7 linked regions of the Homo sapiens genome follow. Changing the gene in region 7 together with the main gene of any one other region gives a genetic interaction. Each region holds a gene or a part of one and is shown on either strand. Other genes may lie near its edges. The genes, in order: NOSIP, RAB2A, ATAD2, HTT, TADA1, PTAR1 and FASN.

What was found.
Region 1: changes in FASN (region 7) and NOSIP together harm fitness more than expected from each alone (negative genetic interaction), as found in Homo sapiens cells (one large-scale study listed by BioGRID).
Region 2: changes in FASN (region 7) and RAB2A together harm fitness more than expected from each alone (negative genetic interaction), as found in Homo sapiens cells (one large-scale study listed by BioGRID).
Region 3: changes in FASN (region 7) and ATAD2 together harm fitness more than expected from each alone (negative genetic interaction), as found in Homo sapiens cells (one large-scale study listed by BioGRID).
Region 4: changes in FASN (region 7) and HTT together harm fitness less than expected from each alone (positive genetic interaction), as found in Homo sapiens cells (one large-scale study listed by BioGRID).
Region 5: changes in FASN (region 7) and TADA1 together harm fitness less than expected from each alone (positive genetic interaction), as found in Homo sapiens cells (one large-scale study listed by BioGRID).
Region 6: changes in FASN (region 7) and PTAR1 together harm fitness more than expected from each alone (negative genetic interaction), as found in Homo sapiens cells (one large-scale study listed by BioGRID).

The regions. Positions count from the first base shown.
Region 1 is NC_000019.10:49,570,557-49,574,056, reverse strand, and holds part of NOSIP (nitric oxide synthase-interacting protein), read left to right. Parts: intron 1-3,500. UniProt on the Homo sapiens protein: E3 ubiquitin-protein ligase that is essential for proper development of the forebrain, the eye, and the face. Catalyzes monoubiquitination of serine/threonine-protein phosphatase 2A (PP2A) catalytic subunit PPP2CA/PPP2CB.
Region 2 is NC_000008.11:60,593,487-60,596,986, forward strand, and holds part of RAB2A (ras-related protein Rab-2A), read left to right. Parts: intron 1-3,500.
Region 3 is NC_000008.11:123,319,350-123,323,447, reverse strand, and holds the end of ATAD2 (ATPase family AAA domain-containing protein 2), read left to right. Parts: intron 1-381; coding exon 382-510; intron 511-2,272; coding exon 2,273-2,314; 3' UTR 2,315-3,598; downstream 3,599-4,098. UniProt on the Homo sapiens protein: May be a transcriptional coactivator of the nuclear receptor ESR1 required to induce the expression of a subset of estradiol target genes, such as CCND1, MYC and E2F1.
Region 4 is NC_000004.12:3,203,681-3,207,180, forward strand, and holds part of HTT (huntingtin), read left to right. Parts: intron 1-326; coding exon 327-468; intron 469-2,815; coding exon 2,816-2,995; intron 2,996-3,126; coding exon 3,127-3,303; intron 3,304-3,500.
Region 5 is NC_000001.11:166,873,465-166,877,585, reverse strand, and holds the start of TADA1 (transcriptional adapter 1), read left to right. Parts: upstream 1-1,321; 5' UTR 1,322-1,352; coding exon 1,353-1,426; intron 1,427-4,121. UniProt on the Homo sapiens protein: Probably involved in transcriptional regulation.
Region 6 is NC_000009.12:69,712,019-69,715,011, reverse strand, and holds part of PTAR1 (protein prenyltransferase alpha subunit repeat-containing protein 1), read left to right. Parts: 3' UTR 1-2,993.
Region 7 is NC_000017.11:82,084,737-82,088,236, reverse strand, and holds part of FASN (fatty acid synthase), read left to right. Parts: coding exon 1-121; intron 122-202; coding exon 203-283; intron 284-375; coding exon 376-552; intron 553-732; coding exon 733-912; intron 913-983; coding exon 984-1,187; intron 1,188-1,678; coding exon 1,679-1,983; intron 1,984-2,365; coding exon 2,366-2,755; intron 2,756-2,834; coding exon 2,835-2,999; intron 3,000-3,080; coding exon 3,081-3,202; intron 3,203-3,283; coding exon 3,284-3,438; intron 3,439-3,500. UniProt on the Homo sapiens protein: Fatty acid synthetase is a multifunctional enzyme that catalyzes the de novo biosynthesis of long-chain saturated fatty acids starting from acetyl-CoA and malonyl-CoA in the presence of NADPH.

The sequences.
Region 1 (3,500 bases), on a different chromosome or scaffold from region 7:
AACCCCGTCTCTACTAAAAATACAAAAAAAGTATCTAGGCATGGTGGTGTGTGCTTGTAATCCCAGCTACTTGGGAGGCTGAGGCAGGAGAATCACTTGAACCTGGGAGGTGGAGGTTGCAGTGAGTCAAGATCGTGCCACTGCACTCCAGTCCGGGTGACAGAGTGAGACTCCGTCTCCAAAAAAAAAAAAAAAAAAATACTTCAGTCCTGGTGACAGTGAGACTGTCTCCAAAATAAATACATACATACATACATACATACATAAAATAAAATAAATGGGCAGAACGTGGGGAGGTTGTCATGAGGACCGAATGTGTTCACATGTGGAAAGTGCTTCCCACAAGGTCTGATTCTTAAGGGGTTGAAGGATGTGATGATTACTTCTGTTCTTCCAGTGCTTCTGTGATTCACATGTTACTAATGAATTATTAGTGTATTAATGGCATGATGTCATGGCTGCATGGTTAGTTCATTGCTAACCCACCTCCCCTGGCCCTAGGATTGGAGGTGGTTCATTGATTCTATCATGACATCTCTGAGACCTCCCAGGTGCCAGGCAATGCTGGGACCCAGGCTGAAGTTCAACCCAGGCCCCACCAACCAGGGCCCCTACTCTGGAGCCGAAATACCGAGGGACGGGCTGTAACGGAGGTAGCTCAGGGCACGGTCAAGTGCAAGGAGAACCTAACTGATCCCGGAGAGGCAGGCTTCTTGGAGGAGGCAAACCTTGGCAGTGCTCTGGAGGAGAAAGGAGACAGGATTTCAGGGGAGGACAAGACACACACTAGCTGTCTGATCCACTCCCAGAGTTCAGCACAGTGCCTGAGGCCGCCTGCAGCCAGCTGGCACAGTGGATGGTCAAAGCCACAGGTGCTTGGATCAAACACAGCTGTAGGACTCACTAGCTGCATAACCTAGGGCACCGCCTCTGTGCCTCTCTTCATTTATAGCAACTATTTGAGGTGCTGTGATATTCAGTGGAGTGTTGTGATATTCGACCGTTTGAGGTGTTATGATATTCAGTAAAATGCTTAGAGCCAGGGTCTGCTTCAGAGCCGGGCTTTTTTTTTTTTTTTTTTTTTGAGACACAGTCTTGATCTGTTGGCCAGGCTGGAGTGCAGTGGCCCGATCTTGGCTCACTGCAACCTCTGCCCCCAGGTTCAAGCGATTCTCCTGCCTCAGCCTCCCGAGTAGCTGGGACTACAGGCACCTGCCACCACACCCAGCCAATTTTTGCATTTTTAGTAGAGACAGGGTTTCGCCACATTGGCCAGGCTGGTCTTGAACTCCTGACCTCAGGTGATCTGCCCGCCTTGGGCTCCCAAAGTGCTGGGATTACAGGCGTGAGCCACTGCTCCCAGCCATATATATATATATATTTTAAAGTATCTCCAATGAAAATTTAGCATCTGATGGCCAGGCCAATGTGGTGAAACCCCATCTGTGCTAAAAATACAAATATAAAAATACAAAAATGAGCTGGGCATGGTGGCACACGCCTGGAATTCCAGTTACTTGGGAGGCTGAGGCAGGAGAATGGCTTGAGCCCTGGAGGTGGAGGTTGCAGTGAGCCAAGATTGCACTATTTTGCACTCCAGACTGGGCAACAGAGCGAGACTCTGTCTCAAAAAAAAAAAAAAAAAAAAAAGGCTGGGTGCAGTGACTCATGCTTGTAATCCTAGCACTTTGGGAGGCTGAGGCGGGTGGATCACCTGAGGTCAGGAGTTCGAGACCAGCCTGCCCAACATGGCGAAACCCCATCTCTACTAAAAATACAAAAAATTAGCCAGGCATGGTGGCGGGTGCCTGTAATCCCAGCTACCTGGAAGGCTGAGGCAGGAGAATCACTTGAATCGGGGAGGTGAAGGTTGCAGTGAGCCGAGATCACACCACTGCACTCCACCCTAGGTGATAAAAGCGAAACTCCATCTCAAAAAAAAAAGAAAAAAAAAAGAAAATTTAGCATCTGAATTACTGAAATTACTGAGATGTGCTGAAAGAGTAAAATACATTCTGGATTTCAAAGGCTACAAATAAAGGAATGGATTGGCTTTTTTTTTTTTTTTTTTTTGAGACAGAGTCTCACTCTGTCGCCAGGCTGAAGTGCAGTGGTGCGATCTGGGCTCACTGCAACCTCCACCTCCTGGGTTCAAGCGATTCTTCTGCCTCAGCCTCCCGAGCAGCTGGGACCACAGGCGCGCACCAACACACCCAGCTAATTTTTGTATTTTTAGTAGAGATGGGGTTTCACCATGTTGGCCTGGATGGTCTCAACATCTTGACCTTGTGATCCACCCGTCTCAGCCTCCCAGAGTGCTGGCATTACAGGTTTAAGCCACCGTGGCCAGCCTGATTGGCCTTTTTTCTGAGATTGTGACTTTCCTAGGAAAACTGACAGTTGTCACCTAGTTAAAAGGAATGGCTCCAGAGCCTGGCTGCCTGGGTCTGAGTCCCAGCTCTGCCATTTCCCAGCTGGGACATGCTGTGAGCCTGTTTCCTGTGCTGTGAGGTAGGGATTATGCTGACATCGGTCGCTCCTGCTCTTTGCCTGTTTCCTCTCTGAAATGCTGGTGACAGCAGATGGCAGCAGTCTGCTTTGTAGTTTGAAATTGGACCTACCAAAGAGACAATATAGTGTGGGGCAGGAGAGCTCAGCTTTCAGAGTTTGTAAATCCTGAAACTGGCTATTCTTCCACCCTTGGTTGGAGGCGCTCACGCTTTCTGGTCTCAGGATCTTAAAAATCACTGAGTTTTAAAAATCAAAGAGTTTGCCGGGTGCAGTGGTTCATGCCCGTAATCCTTGCACTTTGGGAGGCTGAGGTGGGCGGATCACTTGAGATCAGGAGTTCAGAACTAGCCTGGCCAACATGGTGAAACCCTGTCTCTACTAAAAAATACAAAAAAAAAAAAAAAAAAATTAGCTGGGCGTGGGCGCCTGTTATCTCAGCTACTTGGGAGTCTGAGGCAGGAGAATTGCTTGAACCCAGGAGGTGGAGGTTGCAGTGAGCCGAGATCACACCACTGCACTCCAGCTTCGGCAACAGAGCAAGACTCCATCTCAAAAAAAACAAATTAAATTAAAAAAAGTTTAAATGCTCCCTCTATAGGTGTTCCTCCTATTTTTGGAGGGAAAATGTCCCCATCTATGTAGAAACCTCAGTTCTTGGCCACAAAACAGCAAGCAAGCTCATCTCTGGGAAAGCCGAGGTGCCCAGAGCCAAATACTGCAGAGGGTCAAGGGAGTTGACAACTAAGAATAGAGTGGGGAATGTGTCCATGAAAAGGTCACCGTGACCTTCATGAGTGGCAGTTGTGGGGGCTGGGGAGCGGATGGCAGGTGAGGGGAGGCAACAGGTGTTGGACGTTCACTGAGAAGCTTGGGGGTCAGGGGGAAGTCGGAGGAGGAGCCTGGCATGTGGAGGGGACCCTGGGTCAAGTTGGGGTGTTTGATCAAGGTCGCCCTTCTGCAAGCAGCCCTGGCTGCCTCAGGGGGCACAT
Region 2 (3,500 bases), on a different chromosome or scaffold from region 7:
AAGTAACCATTCTACTGTAGCCAAACATCACAGAAAAAATTGTGGCTCTGCTTCCACAATCCCCAGGCAGTAATGAAGTAGCACCCTACCACCACCATTTCCCTTGTTGGAGTGGAGTGAGAGGAAGCCAACTAAACAGTGGTTTAAATAAGACCCAGAGTCTCATAACATAGTATCTAAAATACCCATGTTTCAATAGAAAATCATTCATCATACCTAGAACCAGGAAGATCTTAAATTGAATGAAAAAAAGATAATAGGTGCCAACAGTGAAATGACAGTGGTGTTTGAATTATCTTACAAAGATTTTAATGCAGCAATCATTAAAATGCCTCAACAAACAAGGAACATGCTTGAAACAGAAGAGTCTTAGCAAACAAACAATCTGAGCAAAAGAAATGCAAGATAAAAAAAAGAACCAAATAGGAATTTTAAAATAAAAAAAAATACAATAATTGAAATTTTAAAACTCTTTCAAAGCTCTTTGTACACTAGAAAAAAAAACTTAGTGAATGGACTCAACAGCAGAATGGAGATAAAGGAAAGAAATAGTGAACTGGATGATAGAACAATAGTAACTACTTAGTCTAAACTGCAGAGAGAAAATTGAGGAAACAAATGAACACTACCTCAGGGACTTATAGGACTGTAACAAAAGCTGACGTTATATGATGCATCATAAGTCCTAGAAGGAGAGGAAAAAGGAATGGCTCTGAAAAATACTCAAAGAAATAATGGCTGAAAACTTCTTAAATGTGGCAAAAAGTATATAAACCTACAGATTGAAGACAGCCCCAAAGAGGTTAAACCCAGACAAATCCACATGATGACGAACCTCTGTATGGTCAAATTTCTGAACGTGAAAGACAGAAAAAAAAATCTTGAAAGCAGCAAAAAATAGCACCCTACGTATAGGGGAAAAACAGTTCTAATGATAGCAGATTTCTCATCAGAAACCATGGAGGACAGAGAAAATAGCACAGTGATTTTTGTTTGTTTGTTTGTTTTTATTATACTTTAAGTTCTAGGTTACATGTGCACAACGAGCAGGTTTGTTACCTAGGTATATATGTGCCATGTTGGTTTGCTGCACCCACCAAGTAATCATTTACATTGGGTATTTCTCCTAATGCTATCCCTCCCCCAGCCCTTCAACCCCCAACAGGCCCCGGTGTGTGATGTTCCCTGCCCTGTGTCCAAGTGTTCTCATTGTTCAGTTCCCACCTATGAGTGAGAACATGCGGTGTTTGGTTTTCTGTCCTTGTGATAGTTTGCTGAGAATTATGGTTTCCAGCTTCATCCATGTCTCTGCAAAGGACATGAACTCAACTTTTTTATGGCTGCATAGTATTCCATGGTGTATATGTGCCACATTTTCTTAATCCAGTCTACCATTGATGGACATTTGGGTTGGTTCCAAGTCTTTGCTATTGTGAATACTGCCACAATAAACATACGTAGCACAGTGTTTTGCAAGAGCAGAAAGAAAAGAACTATCAGCCCAGAATTCTTTACCCAGCAAAGAAAAAAAAGAATTAGCAATGAAGGTGCAATCAAGACATTCTTAGAGAAGGAAAAACCAAGAATTTATTAGTAGCAGATTTGCATAAAAGAATGGCTAAAGGAAGTTTTCTAATAGAAGTGAAATGATTGAAGAAAGAATCTTAGAACACCATAAAGGAAGAAAAAAACATAAGAAACAAAAATATGGATAAATATGATAGACTTTTTTCTTCAAGTCTTGCAAATTATGTTTGATGTTTGAAGTATAAACAAGTAACCACTGTCTGATGTGATTATCAGTGTATTCCACAATATTATAAGCCATGGGGAATAAAGGGATTTGATTAGCCCACAGGAAGGCAGGAGAAGGAAAATAGAAAACAAAGTAAAATGTCAGATGTAAGCCCTCATATATCAATAACTAAATGTTGGTGGTCAAAATACACAAATCAAAAGGGATTAGCAGAGAGAATTTTAAAAACAATGACTTAGCTATATGGTATTTATAAGAAACTCACTCCAAATACAACAGTACAGTTAGGTTGAAAATAAAATGATAGGAAAAGTTATACAAATATTAATCAAAGGAAAACAGGAGTAGCTATATTAATATCACATAAACTTAAGGGCAGAAAAAAATTATCAGAGTGGGACATTATATAATGATAAAAGAATCAGCCCTCCAGAAAGATGTGACAGTGCTAAACATGCGTGTACCAGATATGTGAAGCAAAAACTGATAGACTGCGAGGAGAAATAGAGAAATTCACAATTACGGTTGGAGACTTCAGCATCCCTTAGGTGCTCACAGAATATATACCAAGATAGACCGTGTCCTGGGCCATAAAATAAACCTCAATAGATTTTAAAGTATTGAAATCATACGGAATGTATTCTCCAAACAAAATGGAATTAAACTAGAAATCAGTTTAACAGAAAATAGGAAAATCTACAAATACTTGGAAACTAAACAGTACGCTTCTGTGTGTCAGTGAGCAAGTCTTGAATTACAAAAAACACATTGAACTGAATGAAAATACAACATACCAATTTGTGGAAAATAGCTAAAACAGTGTTACGAGAGGGAAATGTATATCATTAAATGCACACAATAGAAAAGAAGAAGTCTCTTCCTTATACGTTATACAAAAATTAACTCAAGATGGATTAGAGATTTAAACATAAGACCTAAAACCATAAAAACCCTGGAAGAAAACCTAGACAATACCATTCAGGACATAGGCATGGGCAAAGACTTCATGACTAAAACACCAAAAGCAATGGTAACAAAAGCCAAAATTGACAAATGGGATCTAATTAAACTGAAGAACTTCTGCACACCAAAAGAAACTATCATCAGAGTGAACAGGCAACCTACAGAATGGGAGAAAAATTTTGCAATCTATCCATCTGACAAAAGGGCTAATATCCAGAATCTACAAAGAACTTAAACAAATTTACAAGAAAAAAACAACCCCATCAAAAAGTGGGCGAAGGATATGAACAGACACTTTTCAAAAGAAGACATTTATGCGGCCAACAAACATATGAAAACTCATTATTACTGGTCATTAGAGAAATGCAAATCAAAACCACAATGAGATACCATCTCATGCCAGTTAGAATGGCAATCATTAAAAAGTGAGGAAACGGCCGGGCGCGGTGGCTCATGCCTGTAATCCCAGCACTTTGGGAGGCTGAGGTGGGCGGATCACAAGGTCAGGAGATGAGACCATCCTGGCTAACAGGGTGAAACCCCATCTGTATTAAAAATATAAAAAATTAGCCAGGCGTGGTGGCAGGCGCCTGTAGTCCCAGCTACTTGGGAGGCTGAGGCAGGAGAATGGCATGAACCCAGGAGGCGGAGCTTGCAGTGAGCCAAGATCACACCATTGCACTCCAGCCTCGGCGACAGAGTGAGACTCTGTCTCAAAAAAAATAAAAGTGAGGAAACAACAGATGGTGGAGAGGATGTAGAGAAATAGGAACACTTTTAC
Region 3 (4,098 bases), on a different chromosome or scaffold from region 7:
TTTAGTTTCACATAATAAAATTAGTTAAAATGTACTTATACTATCATAAAATCCCCTGCAAAAAAACTTTGCTTTTCTCCTGTTAATCTAAATTGAGGTTAGTTTTTAATTTGTTTGTAGATGCTTATGGCTAGACTTAGAATTGGCAATCCCCTCAGCTCTAGTTTTTAGAATATGAGTTACTCAAGGTCAAGGCCAGGATTATAGCTAGACTTAAGTACATTTAAATGTCAGAGCCACTGCCAGAGGCTGCCCTGTGTCATCAGATGGCTTGGTCTACCCTCTGTCAGGCTTGTAATAATTGCCCAAACCTTCTAAATTAAGTATCTTGTCTGAGGAAGTTTCTCTCTCACACATATTGACACTCATATTTTCTTTTAGAATCTTTTGAAGACTGTTGTTAAAAAAAGTCAAAACTACAACATATTTCAGTTGGAAAATTTGTATGCAGTAATCAGCCAATGTATTTATCGGCATCGCAAGGACCATGATAAAACATCACTTATTCAGGTAAACTCTTGAGTGGAAACTTTTTACAAATGCTCTTGTGGTCACATTAATATATCACTTATGTAGGATTGTTGAGGCTTTATTTAATCTGTGTAAGAAACTGATTGTAGGAACTTAAAGACCATCTTTCTATTTCCAAAGTTGATGTCCCATTCCATAAAGATCATTTTTAATATGTGGATTATGAATTATTTCTAAATGCAAGTGAGTTTAGTATTTTTCCAATCTATAACTTAATTAGTTTGTTTGTTTATTTATTTATTTATTTAGAGACAGGGTCTCTGTCGCCCAGGCTGGAGTGCAGTGGTGCGATCTCAACTCACTCACTGCAGCCTCCACCTCCAAGGTTCAAGCGATCCTCCTGCCTCAGCCTCCCAAGTAGCTGGGACCACAGGCACCTGCCATCATGCCCAGCTAATTTTTGTGTTTTTTGTAGAGATGAGGTTTCACTATGTTGCCCACGCCGATCTTGAGCTCCTGAGCTCAAGCCATCCAGCCACTTCAGCCTCCCAAAGTACTGGAATTACAAACGTGAGCCACTGCACCCAGCCAATAGTTTGTGTCTTTAATAAATAGTGGAACATAAACTATGAATACCCCTTTTGTGTGTATGTATTAATGAAGAATAATAGCTTCTTTTAAGACTTGTCAGCCAGGCACAGTGGCTCATGCCTGTAATCCCAGCACTTGGGGAAGCCAAGGCGGGTGGATTGCTTGAGCCCAGGAGTTCAAGACTAGCCTGGCCAACATGGTGAAACCCCATGTCTACTAAAACAACAAAAACTAGCCAGATGTGGTGGTGTGCACCCATAGTCCTAGCTACTCGGGTGGCTGAGGCATGAGAATCACTTGAACCTGGGAGGCAGAGGTTGCAGTGAGCCAAGATCAAGCTACTGCACTCCAGCCTGGCTGACAGAGTAAGACTCTGTATGACAAAAAAAAAAAAAAAAGACTTATGTACTTAATCTTCCTTTATAGTAGGTATTATAGTGTTAATTAGAGCATTAATACTTATTTTTGAGACAGGATCTTTCTCTGTGTGCAGTGGCAAGAACATAGCTCACTATAACCTGGAACTCCTGAGCTCAGGCAATCCTGCCTCAGCTTCTCAAGTAACTGAGATTATAGGCAAGCACCACCACACTGGGCTAATTTTTAAATTTTTTGTAGAGATGGAGGTTTTGCTATGTTGCCTAGGATGGTCCCAAATTCGTAGCTTCAAGCGGTCCTCCCGCCTCAGCCTCCCAAAGTGCTGGCATTAACAGGCAGGAGCCACCATGCCTGGCCTTATTATTATTTTTAATAACAGATCATTTCACTAGAGAGTGCTAAATTTTAAAAAAAGATATTACTTACATATGCATATTATTGGTAACTACAAAATATAAAAATGATAACCATTAGTATATATATAGTATTTAGTATACCTACTAAAGTATACTATGTAGTATATATATAATATTGATACCTACAAAGTGTAAAATACTAAACTCTAACTACATCAGTACCTTGATTAATACTATTTGAATTTAACATAAGATGAATGCACCCCAGACTCATTTCAAAGTTATTTAAATAATGAAGTCCTACAGGTAAAATCTATGTGGCAGTCTTAAATACTGAACTGAATGTTTATTTTCACTATCAAATATATACCTGAATATTAATATTCTTAAGGTTGTTTACTGAAAAAGTAATGAAATGTTTCTTTAGCTTATTCCATATTGAAACTTACTATTTGCTCTTCCTCCCCTTTATCTAGAAAATGGAGCAAGAGGTAGAAAACTTCAGTTGTTCCAGATGATGATGTCATGGTATCGAGTATTCTTTATATTCAGTTCCTATTTAAGTCATTTTTGTCATGTCCGCCTAATTGATGTAGTATGAAACCCTGCATCTTTAAGGAAAAGATTAAAATAGTAAAATAAAAGTATTTAAACTTTCCTGATATTTATGTACATATTAAGATAAATGTCATGTGTAAGATAACTGATAAATATTGGAACTTTGCTAGAACAAGACCCTGTAGTAATAGTAATAATAGTTGAAGTTTGGCCAACTCTTAATAAAGTTATTTTGGTAACTAATGTTTTATGGCACTTAAGAATAATTAGCAGCGTTAAATTTTGTTTGTATTAAGCACTTTTAATTTTATCCTTCCTAAAAATAGTTTATTGTATCTGACAAGAAACTTACTTAACCATTGTGTCCTTCCCATCTTTTTTGTCATCTTTGTTTTCTTCAAATGCCCTCCTCCCATCTGCCTTGAGATTCCCTCGTCTTCACTTAAAAGCCAGAGTGCAAGTCATGATTTGCGGGAGGGCTCTTGAACCACTTCTGGCTGCACCACAATTCTGTACTTGAGTATCACAGTCATTGTTTTTGAGACAAACATTTTTATAATTCTAATTTGGGTTAATAAAGATTTTAAATATTTCTTGGTTTACTTTTGTAATTATATACACAACAAATGTATTAATAACTACCTTGTTAAACACCTTTTAATAGCACAAGGTTTTTATATTTGCAAGCTGTTGATATCTTTCTAAAACTGTTTAGGTTATAGTCTATTGATACTTTTTATATACAATTTTATAAATATAAATATTATAATTTTATATTAATGGTACCAAAAATACATTTCTTAAGGTTAAAAGCATGCACTTCCATGCATACTTGCTTTTGGGGAGAGTGGGGAGAAGACATTCTAATAATCAGTTTGTGAAATAGCTTCTGTTGGAAACCTTTTGAGGGGAATAAGGAATGGTCATCTAAAATGAGAGATTCTGGATTTTAATGCAGTTCAAAGTTGAGCTGTATTTTTGTTGTTGATTTATCTGGATTTTTTTTAAAGCCTTCTAAAACCCAGTGAATTCAATACCTTAATTAGTACATACTATCTTATGTAATGCATAAAGCAATGCCAGTCACTGAGAACATTTAAATATATTTATATTCCTGGAGATACACATTCTCATTTTTGTTGGTTTATTATAAATTATTCTTCTAGATGCATCTTTTATAACTAGGATTTCATTTTGTGTGTATAGCTTATGTAATAAATTTTAAAGGTGAAAACTCTCTTAAATTTGTTTCTATTTCTTAAGTATTTTAAAACATAGCAAAGATAATTCTGTGCAAAAGAAGTGTAAAGTCTGTTCTTTCATATATTACTGTGAAAATTTAAAGTGCTGTTGACACTGGAATGTTTTTATATGGTACATGTATTTTAGGTACAACGACTAAAGTGCTTCCTGAAATGTCTTCTACAGATTTTAGAAGTGTTATGTCTACATTCCTATGTAGAGTTTGAAAACCATGCTGAAATTGCAGTGTTGAATGTTATCTCCCATTTGTTGCTCAAAAGTGCAGTTAACGCAAGAAAAACAAAAGGAACTCAGAAAGGAAAAAGTGAAATTCTCTTTATTTACAAATGCCATGATTTTATATGTAGGAAATCCTTTTTTGAGACAGAGTCTTGCTCTGTCGCCTAGGCTGGAGTGCAATGGCATGATCTCGGCTCACCACAACCTCTTCCTCCCAGGTTCAAGCGATTCTCCCGCCTCAGCCTCTTGAGTAGTTGGGACC
Region 4 (3,500 bases), on a different chromosome or scaffold from region 7:
CTCAATTATCAAACATAGCCAGTGTGAGTTCTGAAATAAAGGTGCTGATTGAATGTGCAGCTTTATGGTGGATTTTGCTATTCAGGCAAGCATTTTAATTTTCTGCCTGTTAAATTCTGTTTTCTTTAGTTTTTCATATGTGGTTTATTGTAGCTTAGGAATAGATAACTGAGAGTATATATTACACATACAACATTCTGATATGGCAATATTTAAAACAACTTGTCTGTTTTAGAACTAGAATTAAACATAATCATCTTCAGTATTTTGCAAATAAGCTCACTGCCATCCAGAAACATTGTCAATGCATCTGTTGCTCCTTCTAGAAGACACAGTCTGTCCAGCACAAAGTTACTTAGTCCCCAGATGTCTGGAGAAGAGGAGGATTCTGACTTGGCAGCCAAACTTGGAATGTGCAATAGAGAAATAGTACGAAGAGGGGCTCTCATTCTCTTCTGTGATTATGTCGTAAGTTTGAAATGCCTGTAAACGGGGTTGAGGGAGGTGGGGACCAGGAGAACATCCTGTGTAGATGACACTTGCATGGACCCTCTGGAACCCAGACCGCCCGGTGTCCTGCCAAGCTCCATCGAAACTAAATCTAGAATGAATGTTTACTTCTGCTGTGACATATAATTGGAGACCAGGCCTGGCCTTCCAGTCACTGGATTCTAAGTTGGACTGTGAGAGTTTTTGCAGCTGACTCATTTATCAAATGCCCGGCTATTGGCTCACGCCTACATGATGCTGGGTATGTTTGTTAATTTGAGGGAAGCAATGGAATAATAATAACTAATGATTTAAAAAACAAAGTAAGTGCATTGACTGTAGTGGGGTTCTGATTTTAAATTTTTTTAAAAATTAATACCAGGAGCAGTGGCTTATGCCTAAATTCCAGCAACTCGAGAGGCTGAGGTAGGAAGATCACTTGAGCCCAGGAGTTTGAGACAAGCCTGGGCTATGGTGTGAGACACCCATCTCTAAAAAAATAAAAAATAAAAAATTATCCAAGTGTGGTGGCTCGTGCCTGTAATCACAGCTCTTTGAGAAGCTGAGGGCGGAGGATGGCTTGAGCCTGGGAGTTCGAGACCAGCCTGGCAACACAGAGAAACCCTGCCTCTACCAAAAAAAGAAAGAGAGGAAGAAAGAAAAATTAGCCTGGCGTGGTGGTGCATGCCTGTGGTCCCAGCCACCTGAGAGACTGAGAAGGGAGGATTGCTTGAGCCCAGAAGTTTGAGGCTGCAGTGAGCTGTGACTGTGTCACTGCACTCCGGCCTGGGTGACAAGGCGAGACCCCTGCTCTAAAATAATTTTTTTAAGTTAATTTGTAGAAAAGGTGTTAGATGTTCTTTGTCACATTTTATGATGGATTCCTGTTTAAATGCCGTTCTCTTTAAAGAAAAAAAAATAACTTGTGGGAGTTTTTAACCATAAAACTAGCATCACATATTTACCATGGAGAATTTACAAAAAAACAAATAAACGGAGGAAAATAAAACCTCCTGTAATCATACTACTCAGAGATAACTTGCTGTTAGATTTTGGTCTAGATTTAATACTTTTTCTATATTTATATTAAAAATATTTAAAACATATGCATTTCTTTGTCACAAACATGGTATCTTATAGATACTACTGTCACATAGCAAAACAGTGTTAAATATTCTGAATCAGAAAAGGAAGCCGACTCTCCAACTGAAAGAGGTGTTATCCTAGAGACTTTTTCTGGTGATGACAATTTATTAATAGTCACTTTTTGCTTTACTTTCTCTATTGAAGTAGTTTTTCTATTTTGTTCTACTTTTAAGGATAATATAATTTATAATGCTGTTTTTCACAGAAATATAAGAAAAAAGATACTAATTTTATAAGTTAATAAAGTTTGATCATCCCAAATCCAAAAATCTGAAATCCAAAATGCTCCAAATTCTGAAGCTTTTTGAGTGCTGACATTATGTTCAAAGGAAATGTTCATTGGAAGGTTTCAGATTTTCGGATTTAGGGAGCTCAACAAATAAGTATAATGCACATATTTCAAAACCTGAAAAAAATCCTAAATTCAGAATACTTCTGATCCCAAACATTTCAGATAAGGGTTATTCAACCTGTACTGTCAGATGATCCCAAATGAAAAATATTAATCGTTAACCAAATATCAAGGAATTGATCACATTTTACAGTTTCTGCCTAGGATTATGAATCAAGATGAAAAGGCTCTGCATGTTTAAAAATATATATTTTTATTTTCTTATAAATCTTAAATATCTACACTTAAGATTTATTTGATATGTGGGATCCATTCATATTTTGGATTCAACAGTTCTGTCAAAACTGTGGCAGTGATAGGGGATTCTTTTTTTCCCACTGAACTATCACAAAATTGGAAAAAGAGTAATTGGAGAACCCCACTGGCTTAGCCGGCCCGAAGCCCGGGAGAGGGCAGGCAGTGCTGTGGATGGGGTCATCCCAGCGCAACGCTGCCCCTGCTACCTGCGGATCTCGCTGAGGCCTGCCTTTGTCCTTTGACCCTTGGCCATTTGTTAGTGTCTCTGAGAGCTGGACTGCTGTACCCTACTTCCCCAGGGGGCCTAACTTCACACAGCCTCTGCCGCAGTGCGTGGTTGGAGGTGACGGCCTTGGTAAATCGAGTTTCCTACCTCCTCAATTATTTGTGCTCATACACTGTATATTTTTAGTGAGGTTTATATTTGGGATGTGTTTTCTCCTTCTTACCCTTTCTGGCCTTTCTATGGCATTAATACCTGGTCTCTTCTTGTGTACTTGAAAATGAATCTCTCATCATATTTTTCCTTAGTGTCAGAACCTCCATGACTCCGAGCACTTAACGTGGCTCATTGTAAATCACATTCAAGATCTGATCAGCCTTTCCCACGAGCCTCCAGTACAGGACTTCATCAGTGCCGTTCATCGGAACTCTGCTGCCAGCGGCCTGTTCATCCAGGCAATTCAGTCTCGTTGTGAAAACCTTTCAACTGTACGTCTTCATCCTGCCGACTATTGCCAGTTGCAGTTTTCCCTGCCTTAAAAATGGAGTATTGAAATTTTTAACTTTAATTTCTGATTTGCAAAATAGTCATCTTTTGTTCTTTTCCTTCTTGCTGTTAGCCAACCATGCTGAAGAAAACTCTTCAGTGCTTGGAGGGGATCCATCTCAGCCAGTCGGGAGCTGTGCTCACGCTGTATGTGGACAGGCTTCTGTGCACCCCTTTCCGTGTGCTGGCTCGCATGGTCGACATCCTTGCTTGTCGCCGGGTAGAAATGCTTCTGGCTGCAAATTTACAGGTATTGGGAAGAGAAACCCTGATATTGATTTATATTGAAAATTTAGCAGGCCAAGCAAAACAGGTGGCTGGCTTTTTCCTCCGTAAGTATGGTCTTGACATGGTCACCGATAGAAACATGGAAACATCTGCAAACTTGCCGTTACTCGTGTGTCCGATCTGACTGTTTCTTGTATTTTTTTCTAGTCTGCCCTTACT
Region 5 (4,121 bases), on a different chromosome or scaffold from region 7:
TTACCCAGAGTTTTGACACAGAGAGGAAGACTTTGCCTGACCTTTGTATCTCCTTTCACCTGTGTATCTCCAGTACTCAAAGAGTTCCAGACACATAATAGGAGCTCACTGTATGAATTCAAGTGAAGAGAAGGTGCCCGGCTGGCATTGCAGCCAGGACAGGGCTTGTGGGTTTAGGTTGGGCAGTGAGGAAGTTGAATGAATGAACTTAAGGGGACATCTTTGGAGAAATTACACAAGATCTAAAAGCTATCTAGGATTATTTAAAAAACTTTGGGAGGCAATTTGACAATATACACCAAGGCATTTATAAATATTCCCATCATTTGATCCAGTAATTCTATGTGTGGGACTCTATGCTAAAGTAATAATCCTAAAGGAGGAAAAGTTTTATGCATAAAGAAGTTTTGCTTCATTATGCTATATGCTTCAAAAGCAATATTACAGTATTGCTTTTTAATAGAGAAGAAATGGACACAGTCTAACAATTGGGAAACAAGTTGTGTACCTTCTATCTGTGGGGGTATTTAATATGTTGTCATTAAAATTATTCTAAAGACAATGTAATACTACAGATAAATCCTTAAGTTTAAAAACGTGCAAAATTGAACATAGAATATTTTAAGTCATGGGAGTGTGCGAAGTGAAGGAGAAATCTCTCTCAGTTAAGTGTTTGTCCGGGAGTGGTAAAACACTTTTTCCTTCTTTTTATCTTTATCTTTCTGTGTATTTTCCAAATTTTACATAGTTACCTCATTTACTCAAATACTTATTAAGCATCCACTATGTGCCAGGCGCTGCTCTAGAGAATTGCGGGTAACAGTGAATAAAACACAACTCCTGTCCTCGAGCCATAACATTTACAAGATAAATCAACTAAATGTCATATGAGACGGTTAGTGCTCGGGGAAAAATAAGGCAAGGAAAGAGTAAAACTGATACTGCATTTACTTTTTTAAATGGAGGGGTAAGGTACTCCTCCAGGCAGAAGAACAGCAGGCTGAATTCGGAATTGCCCCAGCGGTAACAGAATGAAAGAGCTTGGGACACGCCAGCCTGTCAGCAACGTTGCAGCCGAGGCGGGGCGCGCGGGTTTAGGATGGGCGCGCGACAAGGTGAAGCGGATCACGTGACTCGAGGGGCGGGAGGAAGAGAGCAGAGTTTGGCCGGGCACCTTCCCTGCGAAAAGGCGGGCGGAGCCGAAAACCAAACAAACGACTTCTGAGAGATTGGGGGCGGGACTGACGGCGGCCGGCTTAGCTTCCAGAGCCAAGGCCTTCCGCCGAGTTGGTTTTTGGGTTGTTGATCGCGGTGGCCGGGCGGTCTGCGGTCGGGCTGAGACACGCGGAGCAATGGCGACCTTTGTGAGCGAGCTGGAGGCGGCCAAGAAGAACTTAAGCGAGGCCCTGGGGGACAACGTGAAACAGTAAGAGCTGCCCTAGCACAGCGTCCAGGCCAACACGCGGGTGCTCTCCTGGCCTCGGGCTGCCAGCCCGCCCCGGAGACGCCCGCGTCGCCCGGGGGCCTGTGCAGCCTGGAGTCCGCGGCGGCGGGGCTTCGGGGTTTCTCCGGCCGGGGCGGGGCGGGCCACCTGAACTCACCGCCCTGGAGAGACCGGGCCTCCTGGGCGCCCGGGAGACATCGGCGGGCGCCGTTGCTCGGGACTGTCTGCCCTGGGTGGGGCGGGAGAAGCGCACTTCGCACCCAAGGGCCTGCTGAGCAGGTGCGGGCCCCAGCGCGGGCGTGCGGGATGCGGGAGGCTGACTTGGGCGGAGTGAGCCGGAGCCCTACGCGTCCAGCCAGAGGGCATAGCGCAGGGCGGCCCGCCCCTGGAGGGCTTCCTGGAGGTGGAGGCCTGTTGAGCTGGTGTGATCTGCTACGGATTATTGGTAAGCTCTTTTGACAGCAATTTCGTAAGGCAGACGGACCCTCTGGTGAAATCACAGTCATTGAACACTACAATTATAGTGATGATAGCAGTAGCGGACATTTTAAACATTTTAAGCTCTCTAAATATATTATCTAATCCTTACAACAGATGTGAGATAGGTACAGTTGTTATTCCCATTTGACAGATGAGAAGACTGAGACCTAGTGCGGACAAGTAACTCTTCAAAAGTCACTGTCAGAGTTGGGACCCACGCTTTTGATTCCCGACTGATGCATTAGAGGGGCTGTAAAGGATCCCAGAGACGCTCAGCCAGACCTTCATCCAGGTTATGGCAGGGGACCTAGTGCACAGTCAGGTTAGGTGCAGAATGGCCAAGGGTAAAATCAGTATCCAGTCAAAGCCAAAGCCAAAGAGCAAAAAAGGAACCTCTGGGATACAAGGAAGAGTTTGGAAATTTTCAAAACGTTGTTATTACAACTTTATTTTTCAAAAATATAGGAAGCAAATATAAACGTTTAAAATTACAGTGCCTGTGTTGTTGCTGCTAGATGGCTTCTCTGGTATTCTACACATTTGCATTACTCAGTGGATGCATACTTTTAAATGATGTTGGTGGAGGAGCAATTTGGGAATACTTAATTTTTCTCCAATACTTTCTTTTCATCCTTCTCTGTTCTTTATTATTACTGGATTGAAATTACTTAGGTTGGATGTCATACATGAATTTTGGAGTTTTTCCTTCATGTGAAATTTTGGGGTGGCAGAGTTGACAGTCTACTTTTCATCCTAACAAGATAATAATGGAAACTATAAAAAGATTAAAATTAAAATCTAAACTGTTATTTTAGCATAATTATTTAATTTTTGGTGAACATTTATTTACGCCCAGAGATATGTTTCACTTTGTGTTTGGGGGTTGGGGTCTTGCTCTGTGGCAGAGGCCGAAGTACAGTGGCCTGATCACACAGTTCACAGCAACCTTGATCTCCTGAGCTCAAGAGATCCTCCCCTGCTGTGAGCCTATAACTGGGACTGTAGGCACGCCCCGCTAATCCTGGCTAAAGTTTTTTTTTTCAGAGACAAAGTCTTGCTGTGTTGCCCAGGCTGATCTCAAATCCTGGCCTCAAGCAGTCCTCCCGCATTGGCCTCCCAAAGTTCTGGGATTACAGGCATGAGCCACCACACCCGACTATAGTGTACCACCGAAAATTGTCTTTCGATATTGATGTTCACTGTGCTTATTGAATTAAATATTCTTACTTATTTTAATAGGTAAAATTGACAGCTTTCACCCTAATTACTGTAGCTTTTTACTTTTGTAATACCGACTGATAAAATTTACCTTTTTTTTTTTTGAGATGGAGTCTTGCTCTGTCGTCCAGGCTGGGGTGCAGTGGCATGATCTCCGCTCACTGCAGCCTCCACCTCCTGGGTTCAAGCACTTCTCTGCCTCAGCCTCCTGAGTAGCTGGGATTACAGGCACCTGCCACCACGCCCGGCTAATTTTTGTATTTTTAGTAGAGATGGGGTTTCACCATCTTGGCCAGGCTGGTCTTGAACTCCTGACCTCGTGAGCCACCCGCCTTGGCCTCCCAAAGTGCTGGGATTACCGACGTGAGCCACCGCGCCCAGCCAAAATTTACATTTTTAAGCACATAAGGGGCATTTCACTCTGTTCCATCTAGAATGCTTACAAATATTTGAAAGCAAACGTTTACATACCAAAATAAATCTGAAGGACCTGGCTTGTGTATGATTGCCTTTAACCCTGATTAGATGCAATGGTGACCTCTGTCATCCCATACTCATCAGTTACAGGTTCAGGGCTGCCAAAAGTGTTTTTGAAGTTAGCATTCCTTATTTAGTTTTTAAAGGCCAAAGCCGACTGTCTGATGTTGGTCAAATACTGATGCTGAAGCTAAATTTGGTGCATCTGGAGTGTGAATCCCCACTAAAATGCAATCAAAAGAGATTTTTATGCCAGAAACAGTTAATGGTAACGTATAGTTCTAAATTTGTTTTTCCATTCTCTCATTGTTCTTTTCCCTTCTCCTTAAAAAGTACCTCTGGGTTAAATAGTCAGTAATACTCTTGTACTGTACAGTCATTTCTTATATTTCCTCCATGAGCAGTTTGCTTTGGTTTGCACAACCTATTTAAGTGTGGTCCTCGGTGGTAGGCAAAACATACAGGGTTATGCACGGAGGCTGGATATGAGTTATTTGCTATT
Region 6 (2,993 bases), on a different chromosome or scaffold from region 7:
TAATCATCTGAAGAAATTCTTTGATTTCAGTGACTTACTGATCTGTACCTGTGCACATATCATTTTATGCTTCTCCTTTTTTCCCCGCAACTTGAACTGTGACTCTTTCAGATATTTCTTAAATCTGTATGAGTCATTTTTTAAGCTTAGGGATTTGATATGTATTAATGTCCCCTTTGTCTTCTGTAGATTTTAGCATTTTATTACCTCTTAAGAAACTCTGGGCCCAGACTTTCAGTCATATTTCTTATTCCTATGGTACAGTTCTCACTTAAAGGCTTAATTATTAGTAGGGTTAAATATATACAGGTTATCTCTAAAAGTACTTAAATTTTTAAATAAGGGCTTATGTGATACAAGATACGGAAACAAAAGTTTTTGGATTTTTATGCAGTAGTTTGCAGGAAAGCAAATACATAGTAGATCGTATGCCACTTAGGTATGTTCAGGTCATGCCAGTTTATTCTTGTTGGGCCACACACACATGTATGTGTGTGTAAAAGGAATTTTTAGTATTGAAGCAAACAAATTGTCAGTTTAATAATTTTCTCTTACATAGCACAAGATGGCAGATACCACCTACTGTACAACAATCTAATAATCCCTACCTTAGTTCCCCTGAGTTATAGAAGATGCTAAAGATTTAGTTGTAAAGGGAAGTAACATGATTTTTTTTTTCTAAAAAGCTGTTTTAAGCTAACTATTATTTTGCTACTGGAAAATTATATTTTAAAACTTACAGATATTTAAAGTATGCTAGAAAATTTGAACCTGATAACAACTGAACCTTTTGTCTTGAATAAATTTCTCAAATAGAACTGTGCAAACCCTAGCACTTTATGTGTTGCTGCCTCCCCATACCTAGGTATGCTCTGTAATAAGCTCCCATTTAATGGAGAGATGTGTGGAGGCACTGAGAAGTTAATGAAGAAAAATCAACCCTAAGAATTCCTTATTGTCACATAGTGTCTTTTAAAAAATAACTGTAGAGACTGTGTTAATTCGAGTGCCTTTCTTACTTTTTTGGGAGCAAGATTATATTTAATGTTTAAGAAAACAGGATGGAAGTTTTATCAAACAGTTGATTGTGGCCCATTGTTTTATTTATTCCCATCGCTAGGCATGGCCCCGTAGGGTATTTTATCCTTCAGTGAGAGACTGATATAAGCAGGCAGGATGCTTTGATTATTCCATTAGTTATCATTTTAAGCACCCTACCAAGATTTAGTTCTTTCTTTCTGGCAACTAACGTTTTGGGGGTTGGAGGCATCCCATTTAGAGGATGGTGTGTGCACAAATAGATTAGCCTGAAACCTGCGTCCAAAGGGAAACAGTGGCACTCTGCCCTAAAATAAAGGCCAGAACGTTGTCCTAAATGAATCCTTTGCCTTACTTTAGGACCTTCCTTCCCTCTCAAATTCAGGCATAATGTAATATAGTTGAAAGGGGGAAAACAGTACTTGCTTTCTCTCAGGTATTGGAGGAAAAGAAGTAAATGCGTAGATGAAATTTTAAATGTATCATTTTATCTGTTTGTATATGGAGAAGGGAGGGATAGGAATTCCATATTTCAAGATAGCAAATATAATTTCATAGAAATATATAGCTAAAGATTCCAAAGTGCTTTTACAGAGAACTGTTGAATAATATATTCCTAAAGGGCAGCAATATGCCATGTTCATGGTGAAGACAGAAAACCAATGAATCAGTTGTGGATCTCAGGTGGGAGAGGAAACCTCAGGCTCCCAACTTTGACTTCTCTACTCTCACCAGGCCATGTTAACACTGTAAAACCAAACTCTTTGCTAAGAACAATACAGGGCAGTAGTTTAGTCTGCTGATGAAACCTTGTGCTTCCAAGAATATTAGCTATATATAATTTGTGCTTTCTGGATGATTCTATTGTCCAGAAAGCTAACCCTGACGTTACTTTTATTAGTCTGTTGTTATTCCTCAGGGTGTAGAAGATTTAGTAAATTCAGGACAAATTTTATATTCAGTGGCAAAAAGAAAAGGCAAAAATATGCTAAATATATTATTAGCTCTTAAATTTTAGTATAGATCGTATTTTTTATAAACTATTACCAGTACAGTAGCTAGTAGATATTCTGTGACTGCCTCATTGTTTATCTTGCTGCTTTGGTCCCTATGGCTCTAGTATGAACATTCTCGTGTCTTCTGTGGAAATGATTTCTGTGTTATAGTTCCATCTTTGGTAGAGGTGGGGATGATTGTATTTTGTTTTAGTTGACATCATTCTCAACTTTTAGAAATACTGTTGAGGAAAATGATTACCGTTGGTTTTCAAATTGACAACTATTTTGCTTCCAAAGACTTCAGTTTCCCTTTGTTTTATGTGTAGACCTCATATATGTTCAACACATTGCATACTGCCTTGCACATTGTAGGAATTCAACAAGTCAAGAGTTGATAAAAGCTAGAAAGATAAAACTAGCTTAGCTATCATATCATCATTGTCCATATTCTTAGCTTTGGGAAAAATATACCATTTTGCATAAAATACATAATCAGTTTCAAATGCATAAGGCAAAGATATACAGTTGCACAACATTGCAAGTGAAATTTACAAAGGATTTTTATTTTTGTGTATGCTAAAAGTGCTCCTACTTAAAGCAGTTTTCTTTATTAGACCAACACCTTCCAGCAAAGTTAGAAACCAAACACAAGTGCTCATTTGCCCAAATTAACCAGATAGTTATGTAAACTGTTCATATTAAGTCTTTAGTGGTTTACAAACAATAACATTCTGGCTTTTCTTCCATACCTTTTAGGAATCAGCCTTAATTTTAAGTATAGCAGTCACTTTCCTCAAGGTACTATGCAGCATACTTTAGATTGCTTATTTATCATTATAAGGTGATAGGTAATAAATTTGAGGTTTACTTGTCATATAATTTCATATGGCAGATATTGATTCAAGGAGCATTCTATTAGAAAAAGTTGATAAATTATCCTCCCTTACAAATATCATC
Region 7 (3,500 bases):
ACTGGCTACCTGAGCATAGTGTGGAAGACGCTGGCCCGCGCCCTGGGCCTGGGCGTCGAGCAGCTGCCTGTGGTGTTTGAGGATGTGGTGCTGCACCAGGCCACCATCCTGCCCAAGACTGGTGAGGGGTACCCCAGGACCAAGGCGGGGGTAGCTGGGGGGCGGGTGCTGCCCTCTGATCTCCAACTCTCCCGCTCTGCAGGGACAGTGTCCCTGGAGGTACGGCTCCTGGAGGCCTCCCGTGCCTTCGAGGTGTCAGAGAACGGCAACCTGGTAGTGAGTGGTAAGCAGGGCCGGTGGCACGGGAGCTGCGGAGGCTGTGCCCGCTGGCCATGCCGCCCGTCCTCAGGCCCTTCCGCACCTCCCTTTCCACAGGGAAGGTGTACCAGTGGGATGACCCTGACCCCAGGCTCTTCGACCACCCGGAAAGCCCCACCCCCAACCCCACGGAGCCCCTCTTCCTGGCCCAGGCTGAAGTTTACAAGGAGCTGCGTCTGCGTGGCTACGACTACGGCCCTCATTTCCAGGGCATCCTGGAGGCCAGCCTGGAAGGTGGGTACTGACTACACTGCTGCCCAAGCCACCGGGGAGGGCGGTCGTCATTGTGGGGACCACAGAGGGCACCCACAGCTAGGCATGCAGCTTGGGAGGGAGCAGAGGGGCCCGGTGGGCTCTGGGAGGTGGCCCCAGGGACCTGGGAGTTCCACAGCACCAACCAGGCCCTGTGTGCAGGTGACTCGGGGAGGCTGCTGTGGAAGGATAACTGGGTGAGCTTCATGGACACCATGCTGCAGATGTCCATCCTGGGCTCGGCCAAGCACGGCCTGTACCTGCCCACCCGTGTCACCGCCATCCACATCGACCCTGCCACCCACAGGCAGAAGCTGTACACACTGCAGGACAAGGCCCAAGGTAGCCCCGCCCCAGCCCCAGCCCAGTGCCCCCACCCAAGTATGCCGCACTCACCCAGCCTGTCCCCACAGTGGCTGACGTGGTGGTGAGCAGGTGGCTGAGGGTCACAGTGGCCGGAGGCGTCCACATCTCCGGGCTCCACACTGAGTCGGCCCCGCGGCGGCAGCAGGAGCAGCAGGTGCCCATCCTGGAGAAGTTTTGCTTCACTCCCCACACGGAGGAGGGGTGCCTGTCTGAGCGCGCTGCCCTGCAGGAGGAGCTGCAACTGTGCAAGGGTGAGGTCCCAGCCCTGCTGGCTTCGGACACCTCTGGCGATGAGGAGCGATCGCCTCCCCTCACGTTGACCCCAGACTTGCTTCTCCACGGGGCCCCCTTTGGGGTCAGCAACCCTAGCCCAACCCTCCGGCCGGAGCTCACGATGGCGGCCTCCCTCCCTCCCCCAGCCCCCAGCCTTCCTCGTCCCTGGTCACTGTTCCTCAGTCTTGAAAGGGTACTTGGGGGCAAAGATGACAGATTCAGCCTAAGGTCACACCTTGGCTAGGCACAGAGTAGCCCCTGCAGCTGAATGCGGCCCCTCACTGCGTCCACAGTGGGCAGGAGTCAGCCTCCCAGTGGTGGGCAGCCCCTTCCTCAACCCTCAGCTATTTCTCATCCTGTGGGCAGAGCGGGGTGGTGGCCCCAGAAGGACAGAGTGGGTCTGAGAGCCCATGCCAGGCAGATGCCCTGGGGCTTTGGGAACACCAGGCCTGCCTCCCTCCCTCCCCAGGGCTGGTGCAGGCACTGCAGACCAAGGTGACCCAGCAGGGGCTGAAGATGGTGGTGCCCGGACTGGATGGGGCCCAGATCCCCCGGGACCCCTCACAGCAGGAACTGCCCCGGCTGTTGTCGGCTGCCTGCAGGCTTCAGCTCAACGGGAACCTGCAGCTGGAGCTGGCGCAGGTGCTGGCCCAGGAGAGGCCCAAGCTGCCAGAGGACCCTCTGCTCAGCGGCCTCCTGGACTCCCCGGCACTCAAGGCCTGCCTGGACACTGCCGTGGAGAACATGCCCAGCCTGAAGATGAAGGTGGTGGAGGTGGGTGCCTCCTGGGCAGCCAGGCCTCTGCCCCGGACATGGTAGGACCCACCCTGACATCAGTTGCAGGAGACAGCACAGACACGGGGCGGGCCCTGGGCGGTGGGTGGGGCCGGCCAGTTCCCTGTGTGGTTCTGTGCACGTGTCCTGTGCGGTCCACACAGCCACCGTGGAGGGTCCGCCCGTGGGCTCCAAGAGGTGCAGCCTAGGCAGGACCCCAGGGACAAGACCAGTGGCATCCATGCGTGCCCATGGCTGGCACCGTCATCAGGTTGACGGGGAAGCCTTTCTGCCAGACTGAGGCCTCATGGACATTTTGCCCAGCCCCAGGTCAGGGGCACCTGCCTGGTGTGGGGCTGATTCCAGAATTCACCCCCTACAGGTGCTGGCTGGCCACGGTCACCTGTATTCCCGCATCCCAGGCCTGCTCAGCCCCCATCCCCTGCTGCAGCTGAGCTACACGGCCACCGACCGCCACCCCCAGGCCCTGGAGGCTGCCCAGGCCGAGCTGCAGCAGCACGACGTTGCCCAGGGCCAGTGGGATCCCGCAGACCCTGCCCCCAGCGCCCTGGGCAGCGCCGACCTCCTGGTGTGCAACTGTGCTGTGGCTGCCCTCGGGGACCCGGCCTCAGCTCTCAGCAACATGGTGGCTGCCCTGAGAGAAGGGGGCTTTCTGCTCCTGCACACACTGCTCCGGGGGCACCCCCTCGGGGACATCGTGGCCTTCCTCACCTCCACTGAGCCGCAGTATGGCCAGGGCATCCTGAGCCAGGTGCGGCCGCCGGGCAGGGGGACAGGGTGGGGGCCGGGTGAGGGCCAGGCGGGCAGGGTGCTGACCACCGCCCCCACAGGACGCGTGGGAGAGCCTCTTCTCCAGGGTGTCGCTGCGCCTGGTGGGCCTGAAGAAGTCCTTCTACGGCTCCACGCTCTTCCTGTGCCGCCGGCCCACCCCGCAGGACAGCCCCATCTTCCTGCCGGTGGACGATACCAGCTTCCGCTGGGTGGAGTCTCTGAAGGTCAGGCCCTGCCCCACCTCCAGGCCCCACCCCACCTCCCAACTTGCCGAGTGTGGCCTGACCCTCCCCGACCCGCTGTAGGGCATCCTGGCTGACGAAGACTCTTCCCGGCCTGTGTGGCTGAAGGCCATCAACTGTGCCACCTCGGGCGTGGTGGGCTTGGTGAACTGTCTCCGCCGAGAGCCCGGCGGGAACCGCCTCCGGTAGGAGCACGGCCCCTCACCACTTCCCCTTCCCCACCAGCCTCCCCATCCCCAGCCTGAGCTCCCCGCCTCTGCCCCCAGGTGTGTGCTGCTCTCCAACCTCAGCAGCACCTCCCACGTCCCGGAGGTGGACCCGGGCTCCGCAGAACTGCAGAAGGTGTTGCAGGGAGACCTGGTGATGAACGTCTACCGCGACGGGGCCTGGGGGGCTTTCCGCCACTTCCTGCTGGAGGAGGGTGAGCCCCCGACACTGCCCTGCCCCTCCCGGGAGACTGCACCCGAAGGCCCCGCAGCAGCC